Linked DNA regions of Homo sapiens: region 1 is linked to region 2. The links come from fine-mapping of genetic effects on gene expression. A gene starts in region 2. The other region holds a variant in brackets. All regions are shown on one strand. Distances are from middle to middle.

The links.
Region 1: its variant is fine-mapped to the expression of ENTPD7 in tibial nerve (GTEx, PIP 0.97).

Annotation. Positions count from the first base shown.
Region 1 is chr10:99,889,461-99,894,839 of GRCh38, forward strand. All of the region lies in intron 11 of DNMBP (dynamin binding protein), which reads right to left. Among named protein-coding and RNA genes, the nearest start is that of DNMBP-AS1, 35 kb to the right of the region's middle. RefSeq lists an enhancer at 1,668-2,527. The variant G/A (reference allele first, on the strand shown) is at 2,446.
Region 2 is chr10:99,657,172-99,662,550 of GRCh38, forward strand. ENTPD7 (ectonucleoside triphosphate diphosphohydrolase 7) reads left to right here and starts at 2,338. Exons shown (of 13, transcript NM_020354.5): 1 at 2,338-2,417; 2 at 2,691-2,793; 3 at 4,275-4,457. The coding sequence starts at 2,786. It also overlaps a transcript of SLC25A28 not described here. RefSeq lists silencers at 2,017-2,226, 2,347-2,566.

The sequences.
Region 1 (5,379 bases), 230 kb after region 2:
CATGATTAGAATTGACTAATGCTTGCTTATTGTCATGATCTCCCTCACCCACCCTCCTAGTAAAAATGCGAGCTCCACAAAGGTAGAGACTTTTGTCTGTTTTGTTTGCTGACTCCACTATCACATAGTCAACTCCTCCTGACAGTGACTGAGTTTGAACTCCAGGTTGGTTTTCCAGGCTTTCTTTCGAGACCAGCCTGGCCAGCATGGTGAGACCCCATCTCTACAATGCTGGGCTGTAACCCAAACAAACTAAATACTCCATTAGTCTATTTCAAGGGCAAAAAGAGAAAAGTCTAAGACTTTTAATTCTTAAAAAACTGTTGAGGGCTTTTATCATCTCTTTGGCATTCCCCTATGTCCCTAATAGGGATTCTTAATTTAACAAAAAGTAAATTATCAAATTAGAACCAAGATGATTCCTATAGGATTAGGATAATGACCAGTTACCTCTCCTTCCTCAAGTCTTGGTTCATGCTGTCACCGTCTCAAAGACAACTGCCCTGCCATGCTACTGATCATCACAACCTGGTTTCCCATTCCTAAGCAAAGTCCCTAAGCAAAACCATCAGTGCCTCATACATTGGTTTGATGCTTTATTTTTATATCATTTTTAGACCTTTTGTCTTTAATATTTATATCTGTATATATAAAGCCAGGGCTTCGTCAGTAAGATAACCCAGGGAATGTTGCTAATTCCTCTTGAGTGGGAGATCTAATGTGAAAAGTGATGTCCTCTTGTTTTCTTTTAAAGGAATGTTATAAAGTCCCCAAATATCAGCCCATATGCCAATGTAGATACCAAATTATCCAGCCAATGGCCCTCAGCTTATGTTCTTGCTGGTTTTCTCGCTGTTAGTCAATCTAATTTTATTATTGGGCAGGCTTTTCATTTTGTGGCATGACAAAACTATTCAACATTTTCTCTCAATTTCTGTCAGCAGTCAGAACTAAATTGATACTTCCATCAGATGGTTTTCAACATTACATATATCCCAACCCAAAATGTATCAGTCACTGCTATGGAGGTGAGCCTTTTAAGGGCTGAGGGCTCAGGTATATAGTGTCACACTTTAGAAAACCTGGGGAGAAAATGGCCAACAGAGGGATATCAGCATGAGAGGGATATTAGGGGAAAGTCCTATGAAGCAGCAAGACAAAGAAACATACTCAGTAGCTGCCCCAATTGTGTGTTTTATTTTTCTTGAGATGGAGTCTCACTCTCACCCAGGTTGGAGTGCAATGGCATGATCTCAGCTCACTGCAACCTCCACCTCCCGGCGTCAAGCAATTCTCCTGCCTCAGCCTCCTGAGTAGCTGGGATTACAGGTGCCTGCCATCATGCCCAGCTAATTTTTGTAGTTTTAGTAGAGACAGGGTTTCACCACGTTGGCCAGGTTGGTCTCAAACTCCTGACGTCAGCTGATCTGCCCACCTCGGCCTCCCAAAGTGTTGGGATTACAGGCATGAGCAACTGTGCCCGGCCCTAGTTACATTTTTAAAACACAAGGGTGGAAGTTGGCTATTTACTCAATAAATGATAGGCCACTGGGTAACCAGCTGGAAAAATAAAGTTGAATCCCTGCTTCAAACCTGATTTACTAAAGTCCAGACAGAGCAATGATTTAATCTTAAAACTTAAAAAAAGATTTTAAAATCTTAAAAAATGGAATGATAAAAGTACTAGAACTCCCTCTCCCTCTCCCCCTCTCCCTCCCCCTCTCCCTCTCCCCACCGTCTCCCTCTCTTTCCACGGTCTCCCTCTCATGCGGAGCCAAAGCTGGACTGTACTGCTGCCATCTCGGCTCACTGCAACCTCCCTGCCTGATTCTCCTGCCTCAGCCTGCCCAGTGCCTGCGATTGCAGGCACGCGCCACCACGCCTGACTGGTTTTGGTGGAGACGGGGTTTCGCTGTGTTGGCCAGGCCGGTCTCCAGCCCCTAACCGCGAGTGATCCGCCAGCCTCGGCCTCCCGAGGTGCCGGGATTGCAGACGGAGTCTCGTTCACTCAGTGCTCAATGGTGCCCAGGCTGGAGTGCAGTGGCGTGATCTCGGCTCGCTACAACCTACACCTCCCAGCCGCCTGCCTTGGACTCCCAAAGTGCCGAGATTGCAGCCTCTGCCCGGCCGCCACCCCGTCTGGGAAGTGAGGAGTGTCTCTGCCTGGCCGCCCATCGTCTGGGATGTGAGGAGCCCCTCTGCCTGGCTGCCCAGTCTGGAAAGTGAGGAGCGTCTCTGCCCGGCCGCCATCCCACCTGGGAAGTGAGGAGCACCTCTTCCCGGCCGCCATCACATCTAGGAAGTGAGGAGCGTCTCTGCCCGGCCGCCCATCGTCTGAGACGTGGGGAGCGCCTCTGCCCCGCCGCCCCATCTGGGATGTGAGGAGCGCCTCTGCCCGGCCACGACCCCGTCTGGGAGGTGAGGAGCGTCTCTGCCGCCCCGTCC[G/A]GGAGGGAGGTGGGGGGGTCAGCCCCCTGCCCGGCCAGCCGCCCCGTCCGGGAGGTGAGGGGCGCCTCTGCCCGGCCGCCCCTACTGGGAAGTGAGGAGCCCCTCTGCCCGGCCAGCCGCCCCGTCCGGGAGGGAGGTGGGGGGGTCAGCTCCCCGCCCGGCCAGCCACCCCATCTGGGAGGTGAGGGGCGCCTCTGCCCGGCCGCCCCTACTGGGACGTGAAGAGCCCCTCTGCCCGGCCAGCCGCCCCGTCCAGGAGGGAGGTGGGGGGGTCAGCCCCCTGCCCGGCCAGCCGCCCCGTCCGGGAGGTGAGGGGCGCCTCTGCCCGGCCACCACCCCGTCTGGGAGGTGTGCCCAACAGCTCATTGAGAACGGGCCAGGATGACAATGGCGGCTTTGTGGAATAGAAAGGCGGGAAAGGTGGGGAAAAGATTGAGAAATCGGATGGTTGCCGTGTCTGTGTAGAAAGAAGTAGACATGGGAGACTTTTCATTTTGTTCTGCACTAAGAAAAATTCCTCTGCCTTGGGATCCTGTTGATCTGTGACCTTACCCCCAACCCTGCGCTCTCTGAAACATGTGCTGTGTCCACTCAGGGTTAAATGGATTAAGGGCGGTGCAAGATGTGCTTTGTTAAACAGATGCTTGAAGGCAGCATGCTCGTTAAGAGTCATCACCAATCCCTAATCTCAAGTAATCAGGGACACAAACACTGCGGAAGGCCGCAGGGTCCTCTGCCTAGGAAAACCAGAGACCTTTGTTCACTTGTTTATCTGCTGACCTTCCCTCCACTATTGTCCCATGACCCTGCCAAATCCCCCTCTGTGAGAAACACCCAAGAATTATCAATAAAAAAATAAATTAAAAAAAAATACTAAAACACGAGAATTTTTAAATGTTGGAACAGCAAAGTCCTTTCTACATATGACACAAAACTAAGAAGCCATAAAATGCAAGTTTAAACTCTTAAGCGGAGAAAACACTTTAAGCAAACTCAGAAGTCAATAAACTGAGGTAGGGGGAGGACATCTGCAAACCATCTCAGACAAAGGACTATATCCTCCAATAGATACAGAGATCAACAAACTGATAAAGATGCCAGAATATAGGTAAGTCACAGAAAAATATAATGATATAGACATATAAGAATATTCTCAACTCCATTCCTAATATAAGAAATGACAATTTAAACTATATTGAAATATTTTTTACCTCTCTTGCAGGCAAAGATAAAACCCACTGGTTTTGATAACACTGAGTTAGCAAGGGATATTGCTTGTGGAACTTTTCACCTTTACAACATCTCTGACATTTAACGGTAGTTGTCAAAATTTATACTGCCACAAGATTTGGCTCAGAAGTACACTGGCCTTCAGACAGACTCACATAGATCAGAAAATGATGTATCCACAAGGATATTCCTTGTATGACTAGTTCTAATCTTTTCCAACTACAAGCGATTTAAATATCTGCCAACAGGGGACTAGTTAAATATATTATGACTTGTCCACAGTGATATACTACGCAATTGTAAAGAACAATGGACCAAGGCCAGGCGCGGTGGCTCACGCCTGTAATTCCAACACTTTGGAAGACCAAGGTGGGTGGATCATGAAGTCAAGAGATCGACACCATCCTGGCCAACATGATGACACCCCGTCTCTATTAAAAATACAAAAATTAGCTGGGCGTGGTGGTGTACGCCTCAGCTACTTGGGAGGCTGAGGCAGGAGAACCACTTGAACCCAGGAGGCGGAGGTTGCAGTGAGCTGAGATTCTGCCACTGCACTCTAGCCTGGCGAGAGTGAGACTCTGTCTCAAAGGAAAAAAGAACAATGGGCCTCTGTGTGTATGGCTACATCACTTCTGAAATTTGATTAAGTGTGAAACCCAAGATGCTAGTGTATCTCCCACCTACACACACATGAAATCTCTGATAGGAGGGAAGAACTTAATGGATGGTGACTGTCTCTACAGAAGGTGACAAGGTAGGAGGAATAATTATTTTTACTTAGCCCTTTGGTACCTTTAAATTTTATACCATTTTATTCAGTTTAAAAACTTTTTTTTTAAAAAAGTTAAGGATCCCTTTTAAGGAAATTCTTTTATAAGATCAGATATTCAGGCTGGACATGGTGGCTCATGCCTGTAATCCCAGCACTTCGGGAGGCCAGTTTAAGACCAGCCTGGGCAACATAGTAAGACCTCATCTCTGCTTAAAAAAATTAGCCAGGTGTGGTGGTGTGCACCTGTGGTCCCAGCCACTGAGGTGGGAGGATTGCTTGAGCCCAGGACTTGGAGACTGCACTGAGCTATGATGGCACTATTGCACTCCAGTCTGGGTGAGAGAAAGAGACTCTGTCTCTAAAAGATCAGAGGGACAGGAGTATCCAGTACACTCACAGCATCCTATATTAAATCAATAGAGAAATTAGAGACAAGAATAGAAAGGATGGTGGTGCTGGTTCTGACCTCAGGGAGGAAGCATTGCTTGAGGCAAGGAAAGACCTAGGCTCACCTGATCTCCTTGGCTTCTCTAGATCTCAAAGCTGTTTATGGCTCTAATACCTTTAGAGGCCTTATTATAGCAACTGAATATTAATAAATTGGGAGCTGAAGTGATCAGAAAGCATACCACATAGGAACATTCTCTTACTCGTATTCACTGCTTGTTCTTTCTCGTTTACGTTTCCTGTTTACAGCTTCCTAGCTTTTGCATTCAATATTTGATTTTCAAACTGGTTTTGATAAAATGAACTGTAATAAGTAAAAGAAAAATAAGGTGTGTGTGGGATGAAGGGTGATGAAGACCAAAAAGAGGGTGGAAAAAGTTGGGCTGCTTTGAAATGAATGTGACAACATTGATCTAAATGCTATTACTGTTAAATAACCTACTGGCATCTCAACAAAAAGTATGATGGGGCATAATAGTAAT
Region 2 (5,379 bases):
CTATTTTAAAAATAGGAATTATACTTCCACTCAAAAACACCTATTTTGTGGAACACTAAAGTTTGAAATATATATGTATAGAGATTAGACTTAGAACTCACAGAAGGTAAATTCAAGAAATTTTTAAAAATTACTCCAAAACATTATTTTAGTTCTTTCCATATCTATTTTGTTCTAGGAACTGAACTGGGTTCTGAAATAATAAAAATAACTGGTATCTGTATAATGTTGTGGTTAATCCCAACTTTATGCAACTATTCTATTCAATGTGGTTTCTGGGGGTCCAGATAAAATATAACACTTGAAGCAGAGTGGGGATTGAGGGACAGAGAAAAAAAAACTGAGAACTGAGAATTGAAGAAGAAAGGCAAATTAGGAAGTTCAACAAGGTTAGGAGAGTAGTGGAGCCAAAAAAACAATAGTCATGAGAACTGAATATAGAAACTGGACAATGGCTAGATCTTATATGACAATTAGAACTCTGACCCACAACCTCTACAGCAACCAGCCGAGAATAATCAGGACTTGGTCAATGACTCAGTTTCCCTGTTTTTTGCCGCCTCCTTTCTTCAACTCAGAACCCACTAAAGACAGCCAAATATGCTACCTACCCCAAACCAATCACCTAAGAGACACTACTTTTGTTAGCCCACCTCCAGCTTTCCCATGCTAATACCCTCAAGTCAGAGTATACATGAAACCTTCCCTTTTTGTTCACTACTAAGCTTTCCTGGCCAGGTGCAGCTGCTCATCCCTGTAATCCCAGCACTTTGGGAGGCTGAGACAGGAAGACTGCTTGAGCCCAGGAGTTCAAGACCAGCCTGGACAACATAGTGAGACTCCATCTCTACAAAGAATTAAAAAAAAATAAGCTGGGCATGGTGGCACGTGCCTGTAGAGCCAGCTACTCAGGAGGTTGAGGTGGGAGGATCGCTTGCTCAGGAGGTCGAGGCTGCAGTGAACCACGATCGCACCACTGCACTCCAGCCTGGATGACAACAGAGTGAGACCCTGTAGGTAATTAAGTAAGTAAGTAGTTTTCCTAATGTCCTGACAGGCTTTGAGTCGGCCAAATGCAAGTGATGGTGACTGACTCCCTTGTCATAGTAAGCTTTGAATAAATAAAGCATTTGGGTGGTCTTCCTCCCCGATCCCCCCCATTCATTCATTTGCTTATTAATTATACATTAGTTGTGTTTTATCTGCCAGGCAGTGGCCAGTATTGGGAATATGTGGAAGCAAATAGTCCCTGCCTTCAAGGATATTCTGTCTAGTGGGACAGACAGACAGACATATACGTATAATAGTAATTCAACGTGCTAAGTGAAACAATAGGCATGTATAAAAAAGGTGTAGTAGGTCAAGTAGGGCTTTTAGGGGAAGGCGACCCTTAAGATGGGTGGTAAGGGATGAGTAGGAGGTGATTTGGCTAAGAGGCTGGGACGGTTATTCAAGGCAGGTGGAGGGGCAGAATGAGCAAAACAGGACGCGTTGCTGGAGCGTGGTAAGGAAGGCAAGTAGCGGCAGAGGACGGCGGTAGGGCGGATCGTGGGGCGCAATGGATGTGCCACGTTGGAAAGAGCTTGGACTTTATGCCGTCCTCCTGGAAATGAGATAACGGCTGGTGTAAGCAAGAAAGAAACACACACACACCCACGCGCGCGCGTCGTTTCCTTTGTGTTACTGTAAGGTCAAGGAGGGCGGCGACACAGAAATTCATGATGACTGGCATAAGCAGACATTCAATGAATGAATGAATGGACATAAGCACTTTGGTGTAAACGTCATTGTCTTCGATTTCTGTTTTCTCACGGGGCAAGACAGTGAGGTCGGGGCATCAGTTTGGGAGGTGATAGGGAAGGTTTAAGGTGAGAGAACTGCCATTCTGGTAGGGAGGGTCAGTGGGCACAAAACCAACAATAGGTTATGGGCAAGGGATGCGCTTCGGTCGCGAACACCCTGAACCCACCTACCGGAGCTACTCTGTCCCAGGAGCGGCCGTGGAGAAAGCAACCAGCCGAGAGTTCGCGCCCCAGGGAGGGAAGCGGGCACAGGGCCGCCCAGCGCCACTCACCTGTGAGCTCTCCGCGGGCCCTGCAGGCGGAGCCTCGGTACGACGCCTTTCCGATTGGGCGCGGCTCAAAGTCCCGGGGCGGGCATCAGAGGCCGAGCGCTCTAGGGGATTGGCCACCCTGGCGGACGGACGTGCTGCTGACCGAGCTGGTTCGCCCCCGGTTCGGCTCGTGGAGAGCCGGCCCCTCCGTGAGTCTTCTGTCAGTCATTGGCTCCCTGCGGTTTCCTTGGGGACGTGGCGCCGCCGCCGGCCGGGCCCTCCTTCCGGCTGGGCAAGGGGCCGCGGGGAGCAGCTCGGGACTGAACCGAGAGGTGCCGAAGGAACCGGCGGGCCGCTTGATCCCGTGAGTGTGGGCGCGAGAGGGCTGTGGGACCCGGAGGGACGGGGAGAGGAAGCGGGACCCACACCCCGCCACCTGGGGACGACCGGTTCCTAGAGGACAGAGCTGGCCCACGAGAACGCCCCGCTCCCAGGATGCCCGGGTAGGGTCCCCTGGGCCTGAGGAACCAGAGCAGACGGAGCGGGAGCCTGGGGAGGAGGTGGGAGCCGTGGAATTCCCGTGCAGGTTTGTCTCGTGGGCTCAGTCGGACAGAAGCCTGAAATCAAATCTTTCTAGGCTGCAGACGTAGGAGATGCCTGGGACAAGGAGGCCACCTTCTCAGGGCAAAAGAAAAAGAAGGTGACAGGCGTTGAGACCACCGAAGGGAACCCATGGCTAGGTAAGGCTGCACACTTTCCCTCCGGCTGGGAGCACGGCAGAGGATGGCAGGCAGGTTGGGGGGCCCTGGGAGGCTGTCCCAAGTGAGGTTTGCCCTGGAGCTGCACTTGGACTTTGTATTCTGGTTAGTTGGATGCAGAGACGATCAAAGTTGTATTATTTCGAGGGCTGATAAATAATAGTTTCTAGCCCATAGACCAGGAGTGGTAGAGTGAGTCGGCTTGCTCAGCTCTGTAAAGTGCAAGGTTGTAACATTGATTCAGATTCGCATCTGAGCAAGGCTAGGTGCCACTTGAGGAGGTTAAACAAAGAAGTTTTTTTGTTTTTTGTTTGCAGTGAACTTTAAAAGCAGACAGACCGAGGTCCTTTTGAATCAATATACAAAGTGAACTTCACAGATGAATACACTTATCCATACATTATAATAACCTGAAGCTTTTAAAAAATATTAATGTGGATCTACATGCACCAATAAGGGAAAGTTATAAAATAAAGTGGGGGAAAGATGCAGAACAGCAGGTATGGTGGACTACCATTTGTGTAAAACCGAGGGAATGGATACGCACACACACACACACACACACACACACACACACACAGAGATATATTACTGTAAATATATTGGTGTATATTTATGCTTGTGTATCCGTAGAATATCCCTGGAAAGATACACAGCAACGGCCAGGTGCAGTAGCTCACGCCTGTAATCCCAGCACTTTGGGAGGCCAAGGCAGGCAGATCACCTGAGGTCAGGAGTTCAGGACCAGCCTGGCCAAGTAGAAACCCGGTCTCTACTAAAAATACGAAAATTAGCCGGGTGTGGTGGCAGTCACCTGTAATCCCAGCTACTGGGGAGGCTGAGGGAGAAGAATCGCTTGAACCCAGGAGGTGGAGGTTGCAGTGAGCTGAGATTGCGCTACTACACTCCAGCCTGGGCAACAGAGCAAGACTCCATCTCAAAAAAAAAAAAAATTACACAGCAACTGGGTAGTAATGTTTGCCTCTGAGAGATTGTGGGGTCAGGGCAAGAATCACTTTTCACTATACAATATATCCTTTTAAACTGATTTGTCTTTTACTATGTGCTTGTATAATCTGGTAAAACATTTTTAAAATCAGTTAAATAAATTTTCTGACCATCCTGTTTCTTGACAGAATTCTTGGTTGGGAATACTGTAGTTGCTCTGATTCTCCAATGTTATGAGGTTGCCCAGGGAGACTGGTGATCTTTTCACTAACATGAGATTAAGTCTTTGAATTGCACTCAAAGTGCAGTTTGGAAAAAGGGCAGATAAGGCTTTTCTGATATATATAGTAGAAGCACCATGAGCTTCTTCTAAAATTAGAGATGACAAGAACATTTAGACTTCTGTTGGCATGGATTTTTGCCTTTATTAGGAGGGTTTTATCCAATTTTAAAACGATATTTAAGCACTCAGTTGTAGAAATGTTTCAGACTTACTAATGTTTGTCTAATTTCAGGATCAGTTTTTCCTACCTCTGCCCAGCCTCCTGGTACTTCACTGTGCCCACAGTGAGTCCATTTCTCCGTCAGCGGGTGGCATTCCTGGGACTCTTCTTCATATCCTGTCTCCTTTTACTTATGTTAATCATAGACTTTCGACATTGGAGTGCTTCATTACCACGAGATAGGCAATACGAAAGGTGAGTCAGCTTTAGATTTTGGCACTCAAGTCATAAATATTTTCATAAGCTGTTTAACACACTACTGACTTTGACCCTTTTGGGTGATACTGTACTTTTATTAGTAAAATTGCATGCCATTTATTACATAAAGAAGATTTTAAGCCCTATTTTGGCAATATGCAGTTTGGTACAGGAATACTGATACTGCATGAAAGGCATCTTTGTGTTTTCTTGTTTTGGTGGGCTGAAACTTATTGTGTGTATAAATGTTTAGGACTGTATTATACCTTTATGAATGGACCCCTTTATCATTATTAAATGATTTTCTTTATCCTTGATTATATACTTTGCTCTGAAATCTACTAGTCTGGTATTAATATAGCTACTCCAACTTTCTTTTGATTAACATTAGCATGACAGATATTTCTTCTATAGTTTTAGTTTTAGCCTATTGGTGTCTTTATATAAGTGGGCTTCTTGTAGTCAGTGTTTGGTTGGGTCTTGTTTTTTTATCCAATCTGACTATCTCTGCAGTTAATTGGGGTGTTCGGGCCATTTATATTTAATCTGATTATTTAGTATGTTTAGTTTTAATCTTGCTATGTGTTTTTCATTTGTCACATTTGTTCTTGTTCTTTTTCCTCTTTTTCCCTCTTCTTTTCAGTTGAGCACAGTTTTTATGTTTCCATTTTATCTCTCATGTTGGCTTATTAGATATAACTTCTTCTTTTTTTAGTGGTTACTTTAAAGTTTATAGTGTCATCTTTAATTATCACAATCTTCCTTCAAGTAATATTACTCCTCTTCACATCTAGAACAAGAACCTAACAACAGTATACTTTCATTCCTCCCTTCCCCTTGGTCTTTCTGCTACTGTCATGTATTTTATTTCTACATGTTATAAGCTCCACAATATATTGTTATTATTTTTGTGTTAGTC